Regions from separate parts of the Homo sapiens genome. Here regions 1 and 2 are each linked to region 3. The links come from fine-mapping of genetic effects on gene expression. A gene starts in region 3. Each other region holds a variant in brackets. All regions are shown on one strand. Distances are between the middles of the regions. Region 1 overlaps LOC105371888 (a long non-coding RNA gene). Region 2 holds the start of LINC02074 (long intergenic non-protein coding RNA 2074). Region 3 holds the start of RPL38 (ribosomal protein L38).

Region 1 (5,452 bases), 270 kb before region 3:
TCCAGATCTAGAACCCATGCTGGGTAGAAACCCCTTCAACTGCTCAGGCAAGTCATTGGATCTATCTGAGCCTGACTGGATTTTTCATTTGCAGGAGAAAGTTGACGAATCTGTCCCCATGTTCCTCTCAAGCCCTAGTTATAGGACTTCTGAGGTAAAGGACAAGTTGGGAGAGTATCGTAGTTGGGCTGTTCTGGAAAGGGATGTTAGTCCTCCTGGAGCTGGTTACTAGTACAGGATTCTTGGGGTTACAAATGATGGAAAATCAAGTCTAACTCAAGAAAATTTGCTTCATGCCACCAGAAAGCTGAGAGTATTGGTTTTCTAATTGCTGTTGTAACAAATTACCACAAAGTGAGTGGATTAAAACAACATAAAGTGTTATTTTGCAGCTCTGGAGGCCAGAAATCCAGAAATGGGTTTATGTGGCTAAAACCAAGATGGTGGCAAGGCTGCATTCCTTCTAAAAGATGTAGGGAAGAATTCATTCCTTGCCTTTTGGGTTCTGAGAATGCCTGAAATTCCTTGGCTCACAGCCCACTTCCAGCAATGGCATAACTTTGACCTTTATTTCCATGGCCACATCTCCCTCCCTGACTCTAACTGTTCTGCTTCCCCTTGTGATAACACTGAGCCAACCCATATAATCTGGGGTAATCTCCCCATCTCAAAATTCTTAATCATATATGCAGTACCCCTTTTGTCATGTAAGGTAGCATATTCACAGATTCTAGAGGTGAGGATGTGGATGTCTTTGGGGGCCATTATTCTTTCTGCCAACTTTGGGGAGCAGACTTCAGGTGCTCCTGAAGATCCAGCACAAGGAAGAGGGTGCAAGTGGCTCAAACAGTATCATCAGGGTCTTTCTTTCATCTTTATCTCTGCAGTCTGCTTCCTTCATGTTAGTCATATTCTCAAGGCCATTTCAAATAGCTTTCCCCCTGCTAGCCAAGAAAAATGCTGCCTCTAGCCCTCAATTATGGCATTTCAGATTAGTAGATATTAATAGTTTGGGAAAAAATAATCTTTCCCCCTCTATCTTTCTCTCTGCCCTGGTCCAAATACCAGTCTCTGTGTAGATCCCTTGAATTAACAAAGGGATGCTTGGGAAGAAGGGCACCGGGGAGATATACAAATCCTTGAGACAGCTAGGGTGGGGGTTCATCAACCTAATTTGTAGATTAATCAGCATGTACCCATTTAGTAATCCAAGCTGGTGATGCCAGACACATCAGCTACAAAGTGCTCTAGCAGCAAGCCTGGTCATTATTTAGTCTCTTATAGATCAGGCCAACCACACAGAGCATGTGCAGGAATCCCAGCCCTGCTCAGCCCAGAGCATTGACATTTGTGGTTAAGCAGGGCCCCATGGAAGCCACACACCCGTCCCCCTTGGTTTCACCACGTGTCTCTGTAACTTTGAGGGAAAAGGACCCTCCCTCCTGGGATGGGATGATAATTAAGAGTAATTTCAGTCCTGTTGGGCTCCAGTTACAACAATTACAGGGTTCTGGATCAATTAATACTCACATTTGCATGGAGAAGATGGTGAAATTTAGAATGTAGACCCCCCATTTAGGAGCTATAGCTAGGGTGACCCTACAGCCAGGTGTGCTAGGGACAGTCGTGGTTTGCACCTGAATTATTCATAGTTCTGCTCTTCACTCTCAAAGTGGTCCCTGTTTAAATGATCAGTGTTACGGTTACCCTAATGTTAGTAGAAGTAGAAAAGAGTTTATTTTCCCCTTCTACTGTTTCACTTACCCCTGAACCAGGTGGGGGACTCTAAGGCAGCAGCTGGAGAAGACCCCCAAATCACACAGGTACCCCTCTTCCTTGTGCCGGCTGTAAAGCCAAGGAATAAACCAACCCTTCCCATTGCAGGGAGTGGGAAGCCAGTGATGTGGCTTCCTAGTAGCTGTCCCCAGCCTCTAGACTGTACCGTCTGGATCTGCAGAGGCCTGTTCACTGTCATGCCTTCATGCAGATCTCTGGGGTAAGTGCTCTGTTGCTGTAGGAAAATAACTTACAACTTTTCTTTGAATGTATTTACATGAATGCCTATACCTTTATTTAAATGCATAAATGTTGTCATTACATGATTCATGTGTATGTGTGTGTGTGTGTTTGTGCAGACTCTTAGTTTTTTTTCCTGTTAGTTTGACTTTCCTTGACACCTCTCCTCTGTCCTCCACCCATAACCACTAGAAATTCATGCTAATAGCCTAGTAGGGATCCTTCCACATTTTTCTTCATGATCATATTATCCTGTATAAATATATACATACACACACTACATGTGGTAGACATGTATGTACATACATGTATGTAACTTTTTATACACACCCACATGCATTCACTTATACACATGTGTGCACTTATACATGTATAGCCAGCCTTTTGTCATTATTTGTTTTGCAGAAATATATGATATTCAGTTTCTTGCATCTTGTTTTCCTCACTCAACAATACCTTGGGGAACTCTCTCTCTGTCCTCCAATATTGCTCTAATTGTTTTCAATAGGGCATAATATCGCATGGTATAAATGTACTATAATTTATGCACCCAGACCTCAAGAGTGACTGCTCACTTTGTTTTCATGGGAGAAATTTCCCACATTCACCAAATATAAATGTGTGACACTGGCCGGGCGCGGTGGCTCACGCCTGTAATCCCAGCACTTTGGGAGGCCGAGACGGGCGGATCAC[G/A]AGGTCAGGAGATCGAGACCATCCTGGCTAACATGGTGAAACCCCGTCTCTACTAAAAAAAAAAAATACAAAAATTAGCCGGGCATGGTGGCGTGCGCCTGTAGTCCCAGCTACACGGGAGGCTGAGGCAGGAGAATGGCGTGAACCCGGGAGGTGGAGCTTGCAGTGAGTCGAGATCACGCCACTGCACTCCAGCCTGGGCGACAGAGCGAAACTCCGTCTCAAAAAAAAAAAAAAAAAAAAAGTGTTACACTTTTGCCCTAATGCTCCTGACTCACATCTGATTCAAAAGTCTTTAAAAACACATGTCGATTTGAAAAATATAATCAGCTGCTATTTTTTCCAAGATGTCACACTGACCCACCATCAAACTGTCGGCACAGCTTGGTACACTTGTTCCCTACGCAGAGTCACAATCAGCCTTTTGTATTCTCTGGTGTTTGTTGTCTGATTGCAATTCTGAATTGGGGTGACCATCAAAACTGGGTGCCTACACAGGAGGCATCTCAATGTATTAGAGAGGGGCCAGTCTTTGGAACAGACAGACCTGGGTTCAAATTCTGATAACCATCACCTATAAGCTGGGAGATTTGGATAAATGCTCACCTTCCCCCAGCCCCTGTTTTCTTTGTCTTTCAGATAGAAATCATGATACCAACCACATAGAGCATTAAATGAGATTATGGGTGCACAGGGCCTGGTCCCAGGGGGCCCACTGCCCAGGTGGCTTTTCCCAACCACAAATTATGAATCATGTTGGACTTGAAGGGGAAAAGTTCAAATTGATCAATAGCGATGTCAGGGGCAAACAGTCCGAGTCAGATAAGCAAACAGAAACAGGTTGTTTTTGGAATAATTGGATGCCCTGTCTTTGTTTGCAGAGCAGCGTGTGCACCATGGATGTTTAAGGAAGCTTATTGCCAGCAATGTCCAGATGACTGGTGAGCCACAGCAAGAGAGGGGCCTGGCTGCGGGAGGGATCCAGAAAGCAGGGAGCTGATGGAGGTTTAGGATTAGGACCTGAGGAAGGGATGCTAGGGCAAGGATGCGGGAGGTAGCAGTGGCCTGAACCCTCCTACACTCTGGCCACAGACTTGATGTGGCAGGAGTAGTTGGGTGGGCATTTTTCCGCCTGGCAGCAGAGGTCGCTTTCTGTCCTCTCCCCACACCATACATCACACTTTCCAACTCCACCATACTCAACCCCCTAAGAAGAAGAAAGAGGAAATGAGCTCCACAACACAGGTCTGTTACGGACTGAATATGTGTGTCCCCTCAAAATGCATATATTGAAGCCCTAACACTCCAGTGGGATGGTATTTAGATGTGGGGACTTTGGGAAGTGATTAGGGTTAGATGAGGTCACAGGGTAAGGCCCCTATGATGGAATGAATGGCCTTATAAGAAGAGGAAGGAAAAGACTAGAGAGCATGCATGCGCTGTCAGTCTCTCTCCCTCCCTCCTTGCCACGGGAGGACACAGCAAGAAGGTGGCCATCTGCAAGCCAGGAAGAGAGGCCTCACCAGGACCCACATCAGCTGGCACCTTGATCTTGGACTTCCAGCTTCTAGAACTGTAAGAAATAAACGTCTATGGCATTCTGTTATGGAAGCCCAAGCTGACTGAGACTGCAGCCCTGCCTTTCCTTTTAGGGTACCCAAAATGGAGTCCTGTGGCCAACACAAGCCGTGTGCCTCATCTCTTGCCATGTTCCAGTAGGGGGATATAGCTGTGGCCAAGACAAGTGGGGAGGTATCTGGGGTGCTCACAGGCAGGGCCTGGAGAGGAGCCCTCTTCTGGGCAACTTACACAGGACTCTGAGATACTCCTCAGCATCTCCCCTCCTTGGTGCTAGGCATGGTGTCTTGCACACAGTGGGAGCTTTATATGTGTTTGGTGAGACATTGATTAAAAATAATAGACAGCGAATACACGCAGATGTGGAGAGAGACGGAACCAGCAGTTGCTAGATTGGAGGAAAGAGTGTATTCCCGCCTCAGCCCCGCCCTGTCCACAGCTATGAATTAATCTGCGGTGGGGAGCGGGATTCCTTCATTAAAATCTCCAAAAAGGGAGTCATATTAACAGCCAGGCACACCGTTCTTTTCCCTCAAGGTAAGAAGATTCATGGCTCAAACTTACATTTTATCACGCACAACCGAATAAAAATGATCAATTTCCCTGCCCGCCTTACAGCATCCTTCCACAGTTATTAAAGTCTCTAAAAATGTTTTCCTTAAAAAAAAAAGGTTAAAAGAAAGAGAGGTGCAGAGAGTGCAAACCAAGAAGAAGCTGGGAAATGCTGCCTAGCTGAGGGCTATCCATCTTGTCAGCTGCAGACCACATAACCTTGATGTCACTATATTTTCTGCTCATATCCAAATTTACAATTTGCCAGCCAAGGATATGGAAATGCCAAACCTCCCCCTTGGAGGTGGATGCTGGAAGGTTCTTAAAGAGCCTGAGAGAGAGGAGCATCCTAGCTCTGAAAACTCCAAAAAGACACTGAGCCTGCTGCTGGACTCTTAGCAATTTTCCCTGAGTTGGGAAAAACCAGCCTCCAAGGTCAAGGAGATGGATTTCAACTCCAGGGCCACACACACATTCAGCAAGAGCCCCTTTGTTCATTGAAGAACAAGCAGGTTTCCACTTTGGAGGGCCAGAAATGTACCTGTGCAAGTTAGGAAATGGGAGGGTTGGGCCACGCAACAAACAAACTCTGGTGTAAACCAGAGTGAAAGAG
Region 2 (5,452 bases), 91 kb before region 3:
CCTGGGTGACAGAGCAAGACTCCATCTCAAAAAAAGAAAAAAAAAAAAAGACATAACAGCCAGGTAAATCTGAAAAACAGCTCTAACTGCCTAACTTGTAATGTTTTGGTGAGAGACAGCTAAATAATATTTAGGGTGTTCCAACAGGGTCAATATGGGTCAAAGGACAACATCTGTTAGCTCAGAAGAAATCTGTCAGCACAGAGCATATGCGTTGGCCGGGCACGGCGGCTCATGCCTGTAATCCCAACACTTTGGGAGGCCAAGGTGGGAGAATCGCTTGAGCACATTTCAAAAATCAGCCTGGACAACATAGGGATATCCCTGTCTCTACAAAAATAAAAAAAAAAATGAGCCACGCCTGGTGGCACGTGCCTGTGGTCCCAGCTACTTGAGGGGCTGAGATGAAAGGATTGCTTGTTGAGATCAAGGGTGCAGTGAGCCGTGATCACGCCACCGCATTCCAGCCTGGGAGACAGAGCAAGACCCTGTCTCAAACAAAAAAAATGTGTATACACAGGGCCCCTGGCCACCGTCCCCGCTCGAAACCCCACGCAAGTGTGTGGGAAGTGCCCTGCCCCACACACAGTAATCTGTCTGCTCCTCCCAGGGTGAACTCCGTATGAATGACAGCCTGGCAGTCTGTGTGTGCTTCCCCACTAGGGTAGGGGCCCAGAAAAGGGCTCTCCAAAGTGGGCTGATAACATTTTGGACTGTTAAGTCTTTTCATCCTAGGGGGCCTTCCTGGTGGAAGCAGGCTTCAAAGAAAGATTTATGTACACCACAGAGCTCCAGCATCTCCTACATTTAAAAGTCTGGGACACTCTCAAAGGACCAAATAAGTTGCATTGGAACAAAAGTGACAAACAGGAAGGCGGGATAGGTAGGGGGCGGGTAGTGCCATGGGGCTTGGACACTGTGGCTGGCAAGTCATTTCACCCTTCTGAAACTGGTTTTTTTAATTTTATAGTTAAAGGATCTTGTTATGTTGCCCAGGCTGATCTCAAACACCTGGGTTCAAGCGATCCCCCTGCTTCGCCTCCCAAAGCGCTGGGATTCCACTGGCCGGCTTGAAACCCTCTTATTTGTGGGATGAAGACTGCCCAGCCCACAGGTTGTTTTGAAGATCACATGGGGTGATGGAAATAAAAATGCTTTCAAATAGCAAGCTGCGGCCGGGCACAGTGGCTCACGCTGTAATCTCAGCACTTTGGGAGGCTGAGGCGGGTGGATCACGAGGTCAGGAGATCTCTCGAGACCATACTGGCTAACACAGTGAAACCCCATCTCTACTAAACAAAAATAGAAAAATTAGCCAAGCGGCTACTCGGAGGCAGAAGAATGGCGCGAACCCGACAAGCGGAGCTTGCAGTGAGCCAACATGGCGCCACTGAACTCCAGCCTGGGCGACAGAGCAAGACTGTCTCAAAAAAAAAGTAAAAAAAAATAAAAATAGCAAGCTGCTACAGAATGGAATATAAGCTCCTAATAAAATTGGACATGACCTGACACCGAGTACCAAGCTAAACACTTCACGTGCTTTATCTCAGCGCCTCTCAGTTAATCTCATCGTCACATGCCTATGGGGCCAATCCATAACTTCTTCACTTTGCATCTGTGGAGCTCAGAGGTCTTGTACGGCCTGGCCCCACAGTCGGTAAATGAAACACAGACCCTGGCCGGGTGCGGTGGCTCACACCTGTAATTCCAGCACTCTGGGAGGCCAAGGCAGGCAGATCACGAGGTCAGGAAATTGAGACCATCCTAGCTAACATGGTGAAACCCGGTCTCTACTAAAAATACAAAAAAATCAGCCAGGCATGGTGGTGGGCGCCTGTAGCCCCAGCTACTTGGGAGGCTGAGGCAGGAGAACGGCGTGACTCCGAGGTGGAGCTTGCAGTGAGCCGAGATGGAGCCCCCACACTCCAGCCTGGGAGACAGAGTGAGACTCTTGTCTCAAAAAAAGACCCTGATTCCAAACCCGGTGTTCATTCATTCCTTGTTCAACAACGATTCAGCAAATGTTTGCTGCCATCAGCAGAGTTCAGGGTATCAAAAAGAAAGCAGTGGATGGGAGACACCCACTCTTGCTCTCATAAAACTCAGTCTATTAGAACCATCACCACAGGAGAAAGGATAATTTTCCAAGCATTTACAAGGCACCAAGGACCGTGCTAGGTACTTTCCATGATATAGGAACTAATGTTATTCCCATTATTTCAATGAAAACCGAAATTCAAAAAGGC[G/A]AAATGATAAACCCAGGTCACACAGCTACGGTGGAGCTTGGATTTGAACCCAAGTCCTGGACTCCAGAGGCCTTATTCTCCCTTGCTGCTACGCTAGAGAAACAAAAAGCTTTCATTGTGATGATTTAAAGCTTAACCCTCACTATAAGGATAGTGACCCCATATATTACCATGTTGTGTCTGGAATTTGTGGATTCTTGGTCTTACTAACCTCAAGAATGAAGCCGTGAACCCTCGCACTGAGTATTACAGTTCTTAAAGGCGGCGTGTCCGGAGTTTCTTCCTTCTGGTGGGTTAGTGGTCTCGCTAAGCTTCAAGAGTAAAGCTGCAGACCTTCATGGTGAGTGTTACAGCTCATAAAGGCAATATAAACCCAAAGTGAGCAATAGCAATATTTATTGCAAAATAGTGCAGAGTGAAAGAACAAACCTTCCACAGCACAGAAAGATAACCAAACGGGTTGCTACCGCTAGCTCCGGCAGCCTGCTTTTATTCTCTTATCTGGCCCCACCCACATCCTGCTGATTGGTCCATTTTACAGAGAGCCCATTGGTCTGTTTTACAGAGAGCTGATTGGTCCGTTTTGACAGGGTGCTGATTGGTGCGTTTACAATCCCTGAGCTAGACACAAAAGTTCTCCACATCCCCACTAGATTAGCTAGATACACAGTGTCGATTGGTGTATTTACAAACCCTGAGCTAGACACAGAGTGCTGATTGGTGCATTTACAAACCTTGAGCTAGATACAGAGTGCCGATTGGTGCATTCACAATCCCTGAGCTAGACATAAAGATTCTCCAAGTCCCCACCAGATTCAGGAGCCCAGTTGGCTTCACCCAGTGGAGCCGCCTGCCCGCCCGGCGCCGTTCGCCCGCACTCCTCAGCCCTTGGGCGGTAGATGGGACTGGGCGCAGCGGAGCAGGGCGCGGCGCTTGTCAGGGAGGCTCGGACCGCGCAGTAGCCCACGGCGGGGGCGGGGGCGGGGGCGAGGGCAGGGGCGAGGCTCAGGCATGGCAGGCTGCAGGTACCGAGCCCTGCCCCGCGGGGAGGCAGTTAAGGCCCTGCGAGAAATCGAGCGCAGCGCCGGTGGGCCAGCACTGCTGGAGGACCCGACGCACCCTCCGCAGCTGCTGGCCCGGGTGCTAAGCCCCTCACTGTCGGCCGGCCGCTCCGAGTGCGGGACCCGCCAAACCCACGCCCGGGGAACTCTACCAGCAAGCGCTGTGCGCAGCCCCGGTTAGCCCCCGTGCCTCTTGCTCCACACCTCCCCGCAGCCTGAGGGAGCCGGCTCCAGCCTCCACCATCCCAGGAAGGGGCTCCCACAGTGCAGCAGCGGGCTGAAGGGCTCCTCAAGCGCGGCCACAGTGGGCGCCGAGGCCGAGGAGGCACCAAGAGCGAGCGAGGGCTGTGAGGGCTGCCAGCATGCTGTCACCTCTCAATGTCAGGTTTTCAGAGTCTAAGTTTGTGAAATTTAGAAAGAAGAGGAGAATCGCTGGGTATAGATGTAAAACAATGCTTTGTAGGAAGGATCTAACATTTTCTTTCAGGATGAGGGCAGGAGTGCGTATCTGAGGCTTTGGCTCAAAGACAAAGAGGGAGAGAGAGGGCTTCACCTCATGATCTACAACATTTCCACGATGTACCACCGCGTCCCGGCTCCCCGATCCCCTTGGAAGAATTCGTTCTCTCGGTCAGAGCGACCTCGCACGCTGATCGGTCGAGGGACCCGCCATGCTCAGGGCTCAGCACCCCCGAGTTAAGGAGACAAGAGCAGCCATCTCCCGGCCCCCAAGCACCCGGACTCACACCCGCCTCTGCTGCGACTTCACCAAGGAAGGAAAAATGGCTCGAAATGCCTGTACATTAAGAAGCGTATAATTATGCATAATAAAAAGACGCCGGCCCTTGTGTATATAAACACAGCTTTGACTGAGTGCCTTCTCCCAGGCAGCCCTTCTGGCTCTCAACAGCAGCAGTGGAACATCTTAAACATATGGTCGCCATCCAGGCCTCCAGGCAGATCTGAACTGGGGAGGGGGTGGGGGCAGGGGCAGGCGGGAGGTGGAGACGGGACGGGGATACAGGAAAATCAGGAGATGGTTGTTTGGGGAAGAGGGTTACACGGAGAGCTGGTGGGCCAGGGGTCAGACATTTACAATCAGGACATAATCTGTGACCTGCCACCCCAAGTTGAGCTGTCTTTCTCTCTCCCTCCTCTGCCCCAGGCTCAATTTGCCCCCAAAGACAATAATAGGGAGTTCTGCCACCTGTCTCCGGGGAGCGGGAAGGAGAGCTGCTGAGTGGCAGGAATATTTCCTGGTTTTGATTTGGGGATCCTCTCATTTCTGTTTGCACTGATTTCAGCACCTGTCACCTGCAAGGCGCTGAGTAGGCAAGGAGGGAATCCCCCAGTGGATAAGCCACTTCCGATGGTGTAGCAGTTCAACAGGTGATCAAAGACACCCCCAATTTCAGTCAAGCTCCCAACCTTGGGTTCTCCAGCCTCAAGCTTTGCCTGGCCTGCCCATCAGGGTGTGGTCTTGCTGCCAGCTGCTCCTGACCAGGGTGGTGAGTCTTCAGGCTGGTGCTCAGCCTCCCCCGGGCCAACCCGGAGTTTGTGCAGTGCCCCTCAGGCTCCTGGAGACCCCATGCTGCACCATGAAAGGGCCTGCTCACCACAGTAGAGGGCTCTGTTCCTAGCCTTCCCCACCATCACCGCCACCTCCCCACACAATCCATCACTTCTCTGCAAAGCTGGACAGCGGAGCAAAGCTGGCTCCGAACTGGGAAGCTGGGGAGCCAGTGGAGCTGGTCTGCGCATCCTCCTTGGGCCGTCACTAGCAGGCCTGTCTCAGGCAGATCTGTGGTCCAGCTATGCTGTCGCTCTATTTGGGGTGGGGGGCGGTGAGGAGGAAGTGGATGCTGGAGGGGACAGTGCTTGGTCTCCTCATCCTGCAGCATATGTAGAGTCCTCTCCACACCCCAGACAAACTGGAGATGCTGGTCCTGAAGCGAAGACTTGGGTGCAAGTGTTTTATTTGGGAGATGACCCCAGGAAGCAGGAGTGAGGGGCAGGAAGAGTGAGACTCGGAAGGGAGAAAAGCAAGGAGGGGTGCATTCTTGGGCTTGTCACTACTGTGGACAATGGGACTCAACCCCACTGGGACCCCTCTGCAAAGCCAGGCATGGGGTGCCTTGTAATGGT
Region 3 (5,452 bases):
CGTGCCCTCTGGGCACCTTGCCTCACTTTTAGTAGCTGCAGCTTATTTTGCTATTTGTCCCCCTTGGGGAGCTGGAGGTCTTTGGTACTTGAACAAATTTGCCATTGTGTTTTGCTACTACACGTCTATGGTCCCTTAAATTATACAACTCAAGAGGGTGAACATCTGTCTCCCTGGGATCGCTGCCAAAAGGGAGGTGCAGCTCCTCCTTCTATCCCCGTCCTTGTCCTGTCGGGCCGGCAGTGAGGCAAGAAGCACCAGTCATTCATTCAACAAATAGTTTTTGGACCTACTACATGCCAGGCACTGCTTCAGGCACGTCAGTGTCTCCTTCTGGCTCTCCCTGAATTCCTCCCTCCATCCACCACCCCTTTATATGGTGAGTGATCTCAGATGCCGCATCCAGCCGGATCATCCTGCAATGTTAGCATTGAGCACTTACTGTACAGATGGGTACTGCACTTCGAGAGTTATCGACAGAATGCTGAGCCCTGTCCTTGCCTTCAAGGAAAAGTGGTAAGGTGGGGCGTAGTGGCTCACACCTGTTATCCTAGCACTTTGGGGGGCCGAGGCAGGAGGATCCCTTGAGCCCAGGAGTTCGAAACCAGCTTGGGCAACCTAGGGAGACCATGTCTCTAAAAAAGTTTTAAAAAATTAAAAATAAAAAGAGTGGTGCGCATGTATGAAAAGTTAAACACCTCCACGCAGCCTACGGAGAAGTGATTGCAAGGAACCACTGTATGAGCGGCAAGCAACATAAGTCAAGGGTGAAGGGTCCTGCCTGAAAAAGGGGAGGCGGGAGCTGAGCTCGGAAGGACCAGTGGCACTTGGCATCAGAGTGGACAGCAGAGCAAATACCTGGAGGGCAGAAAGTGCCCAAAAGTGCCCCTCGGCTTGGCTGAAAGGGTGGTTGCTTGTGGAGGAGCAGTGGGGTAGAAAAGACCAGAAAGGCATCGCCTGAGATGGGAAGGGCTGGCAAAGCCGGGCTCTGAGGTATGGGAAAATCCTTCTCAGGTCAGAGCTGAAGCACTCGTGCTTCTCAGATCGGATCCGACCTTCAGACATCTAAAATTAGGCTTCTGCCAATTAACTTTTCCCACTGCTAGAACCCCGACACATTTACAGTTGCAGAGACATCGTTCAGCTTCTTTAAAAGACTCTTCAGTGTTATTACAATATTTTTGTGATCTCTCTGCAGCAAGGTCTATTGGTTCCTGTATCTCCAGCACCCCCAGGAAGGTGCTCAGCCTGAGCTTGTTAATGGAAGGGCAGGAGGGAGGAAGAAAGGAAGGTTAAGTTAAATAAGTTCTAAGTAAAGCTCATGGCAAAGTGTTCTTTCCCTTCAGGAGGGCCGCTCTGTAATAATAAGCACGAAGCAATTACATTCTGCCGTGTGGTTATTAAATTTTGGGGAAACAAATATAATAAAATGTAGACATTTGTAGGGAGGTTGGAGATAAAATAAAAATGGAGGATAAAAATAAAATCGATAACCGCAGGTTGCTCAGAGTCTAACCTAAAGGATGTTAGGGGGAGAAAGGAACGCTGCCCTCCCCAGGCTTCCCAAGCCTCCCCAGGAAGTGGCCGGAGCCTGGGCTGGGGAATCTGCCCAGCAGGGGTTCAACTCCTGAGTCCACCTCTCCCCTCTGGGGCCGCGGTGAGACCCCGCAAGAGCAGGAGCACTCCCACTCACCATCAGCCCTAGGGGTGAGACACTTAGCCAGGGGCAGCGCTGCGACAGCTTTTGGAAGTATTATTATTATTATCATTATTGCTAGAGATGGGGGGGGGGAGGTCTTACTAGGTTGCCCAGGCTGCTCTCGAACTCCTGGCCTCAAGCGATCCGCCTGCCTCGGCCTCCCCCAGTGCTGGGGTTATAAGCGTGAGCCACCGCGCCCGGCCTTAACTTGCTTTCATTGTACACCAATTCCTAAGGGAATTGGAAGCAGCAAGCAGGAACGCTCCCTCTTATGGAAAGAAGAGCCCAGGGCCCTGGTCATGACAGGTTCAGGTGCCAAAAAGGAGACGGGAAGAAAACGTGAGGCGCCAGAACAACAGGTTCTACAAGGTGCACACGAGGGTCCCTGCCATTGAATGAAGAATTTTCTGTGTGGATGCCCCTGCGCAGGTCCAATGAAAGCCGTGGAGAATAAGCGTTAGCTCTTCAAACTGAATCTGAGCTAAAACCTAGCAAAGCCAGGCTGGGGTCTGAGGGGTTGCGGGGGAAGACAGGAAGGGGTGGACGGGGAAGAGGCGGGGGTCCTAGGAGGAAGGGATGGGGAGGAGCGAGAGGAGGGAGGCGGAGGGAGGGCGGCAGCCAGGATGGTCCATTCCATTCTTGGAGCTGCACTGTTGACTTCGACCACAAGGGGGCAGGGCTGCTGAAATTGGAAGTGCGAACGCCTACATGAGTCTTGATCCTCGGCAGGCACCGTACCCAGTTTCCTCCGTTGGGAGGGTTTAACTGCCCGGAAACGGAAGTCTCGTTCTTTTTCGTCCTTTTCCCCGGTTGCTGCTTGCTGTGAGTGTCTCTAGGGTGATACGTGGGTGAGAAAGGTAATCTGGGGCAATCCACTGCCAGGTGAAATCTGGGGACCCCAGGTCCGCGTGGAGGGTGTCGGGGAGGAGAAGGGGAGTGCGATGGGGCCGATATTTCGGGGGAGAGCGGGAAAACGGGGTTCGCTGCCAGCCCCCGCGCCGTGTTAACGCCGAGGACTGTTTCCCGCAGGTCCTGGTCCGCGCCAGAGCCCAGCGCGCCTCGTCGCCATGGTGAGTACAGTCCCTGCCTGGCGCCTTCCCGGGGTGGGCTCGTGGGGCCCCGGGGCGAGGGCGAGAGAGCCTCCCAAGGATCTCCTGAGGCCGGGAGAAGCTGGTGGACTGGGCCATCGCCGGGAGACGTGTCTCTTTCCTCTCTGTTCACCCGCTTCCTTTGTGTTGCAGCCTCGGAAAATTGAGGAAATCAAGGACTTCCTGCTCACAGCCCGACGAAAGGATGCCAAATGTAAGTGGTTGCTCCGAAGGTTCAAGAAGAGCGGTGCCTAGCCTGGCACCGCTCCGGGAGCGTCTTCCCCGGAATGTCAGGCAGGAGACGGTTAGGCCGTCTGGGTGTGTGCCTGGCCCTCTGGGAGCAGTGGTTTCATCCTGTTTCCCATGAGAAAGACCTGTGGGGGGCACGTTGAGGCCCTGGAATTTCTAGGACCATCTTTAGCTAATCGCGATCATCTCAGAGGCCGCCCTGAGTTCAGTTTTCTTTCGTATAATATAGTAAATTGTCGGAACGGAATCTCCACTCCGCGAAAGCCTCAAAACACACGTCCCATAAACACTGTTTAGGTTCTCTGCAGTTGTGCAAAATCTTAACACAAAATCCATTTTGTAATAAAGTGCTGGATATTTGCATGTAATGTATCGAGCACGGCACACTGTGTAGTATGGTCGTTTACCTCGTGATCCTGTGGTCGCTGGCCAGTGTCAGAAGGTATCATACCTATCTAATCCAGAAAAATATTTAAAAAAATTTTTTTTTTTCTTTGAGACAGTCTGGCTCTGTCGCCCAGGCTGGATTGCAGTGGTGCGATCTTGGCTCACTGCAATTACCGCCTCCCAGGTTCAAGCGATCCCCCTGCCTCAAAGTAGCTGGGCGCGCCACCATGCCTAGCTGATTTTTGTGTTTTTGGTAGAGACAGAGTTTCACCATGTTGGCCAGGCTGGTCTCGAACTCCTAACCTCAGATGATCCACCTGCCTCCGCCTCCCAGAGTGCTGGGATTACAGGTGTGAGCCACTGTGCCCCGCCAAGATCAAAATTTGAAGCAGGGCTTCTACTGAATGTATATCGCATTACCACCATTGTAAAGTCACAGAGTTTAAGTTGGACTGTCATAGGTCTGTTTCCCAGCTTGTACATACAGGGGAAAGAAGGTGATTAATGAAAAACCTTAAACAGCAGGTTTTCGATGGATAGGTGCCAATCTCTGCTGCCCACTTACTTAAATTTTTACACCAAGTGTGAGAGGTAGTTGTGTTACTCCTTTGTGATACTTGAAGGAGATTGGGGGGGCTTGTGTTTGATACAAGCTAGGTCTTGAGTTATGTTGTTACTTTAACCCAGTCATCTTTTTTCAGCTGACTGAGAATCAGGTCACATGTGGAAGTGAGGTTGCATGGGACAGGCCTGTTAAGGTGGGCTAAGACACCAGCCGTCTCTAATGCTCTGCCAGCCGTGGTGCCAGACGGTGGTTGGTGTACAGGGAGAGTCTTTCAATGAGTTGGGGGTAGGCAGAGATGGGGGTCATATTTGTGTCCCCATTACCCAAAACAGGCTGTCACCTTTGAGGTAGTGACCACCTGTGGGGACAAATAGCATCTGGTGGGAATGATGACTGTTGGCTAGTGTTTTGTGTAAAGAGATGAGGTTATCAGGTCAGTTTTATTTCAGACCATATGGGGTCACTGCCTAGTTTGAAGCCCAACTCTACCTGCAGGTAACTTACCCTTCTCAGCAAGTTAAACACGACACCACCGTTTGATTGTGTTTTAAAAGGGTGGTGGTCCGGGCGTGGTGGCTCATGCCTATAATTCCAGCACTTTGGGAGGCCAAAGCGGACAGATCGCTTGAACCAGGAGTTCAAGACCAACCTGGGCGACATGGCAAAACCCCATTTCTACTAAAAATAAAAAAATTAGCCAGGCATGGTGGCACACGCCTGCAGTCCCAGCTACTCAGGAGGCTGAGGCAGGAGAATCAGTTGAACCAAGGAGACGGAGGTTGCAGTGAGCTGAGATTGTCTCACTGCACTCCAGCCTGGGTGACAGAGCGAGACTGTCTCACAAAAAAAATTGGGAACCTTCATTTTAGATGATGTGGCTTTAAAGGTAGTGGTCACAGTCCCCTGGGGACAGTAAAGTGTCAGTAGCTGTTTGTTGAAAAAACTTTTTAAAATGGTTGTATTAATTTTTAACGTGTAATAGGCATAGCGTAAAAGTTACCATTTACACTGGGTATGGTGGTTCCCATCTGTAATCCCAGCACTTTGGGAGACTGAGGCAGATGGATGAGACTAGCCTGGGCATCATAGTGAGACCCTGTCTCTATAAAAGAAAAAAGTTAGCCGGGCGTGTGCTGGTGGTCCTAGCTACTCAGGAGGCTGAGGTAGGATTGCTTGAATCCAGGAAATTGAGGCTATAGTGAGCCACGATTATGCTACTGCACTCCGGGCTGGGCAACAAAGCATAATTGTACAGTTCAGTGGCATTCAGTAAATACACATTGTTGAGCAGCTGCCACCATCACCGCCCATCTCCAGAACTTTATCTTCCCAAACTGAAACTCCCTCTGTTAAACACCAGCTCCCCATTCTTCCCCAGCCCCTGGCAACCACCTTCCAATTTGTCCCTGAATGTGACTGCTCTGGATACCCCATACAAGTGGGTCTGCTATTGCATATTTGACC

Evidence for each region.
Region 1: its variant is fine-mapped to the expression of RPL38 in whole blood (INTERVAL, PIP above 0.99).
Region 2: its variant is fine-mapped to the expression of RPL38 in whole blood (INTERVAL, PIP above 0.99).

What each region holds. Positions count from the first base shown.
Region 1 is chr17:73,933,560-73,939,011 of GRCh38, forward strand. All of the region lies in intron 5 of LOC105371888 (a long non-coding RNA gene), which reads right to left. LOC107985081 (a long non-coding RNA gene) reads left to right here. Exons shown (of 3, transcript XR_001752999.1): 3 at 1-87. Among named protein-coding and RNA genes, the nearest start is that of LINC00469, 110 kb to the left of the region's middle. The variant G/A (reference allele first, on the strand shown) is at 2,710.
Region 2 is chr17:74,110,189-74,115,640 of GRCh38, forward strand. It overlaps LINC02074 (long intergenic non-protein coding RNA 2074), which reads right to left and starts at 2,711. Exons shown (of 5, transcript NR_184085.1): 1 at 2,458-2,711. The variant G/A (reference allele first, on the strand shown) is at 2,247.
Region 3 is chr17:74,201,190-74,206,641 of GRCh38, forward strand. RPL38 (ribosomal protein L38) reads left to right here and starts at 2,489. Exons shown (of 5, transcript NM_000999.4): 1 at 2,489-2,556; 2 at 2,729-2,769; 3 at 2,941-3,001. The coding sequence starts at 2,767. RefSeq lists enhancers at 1,725-2,228, 3,237-3,741, 3,742-4,245.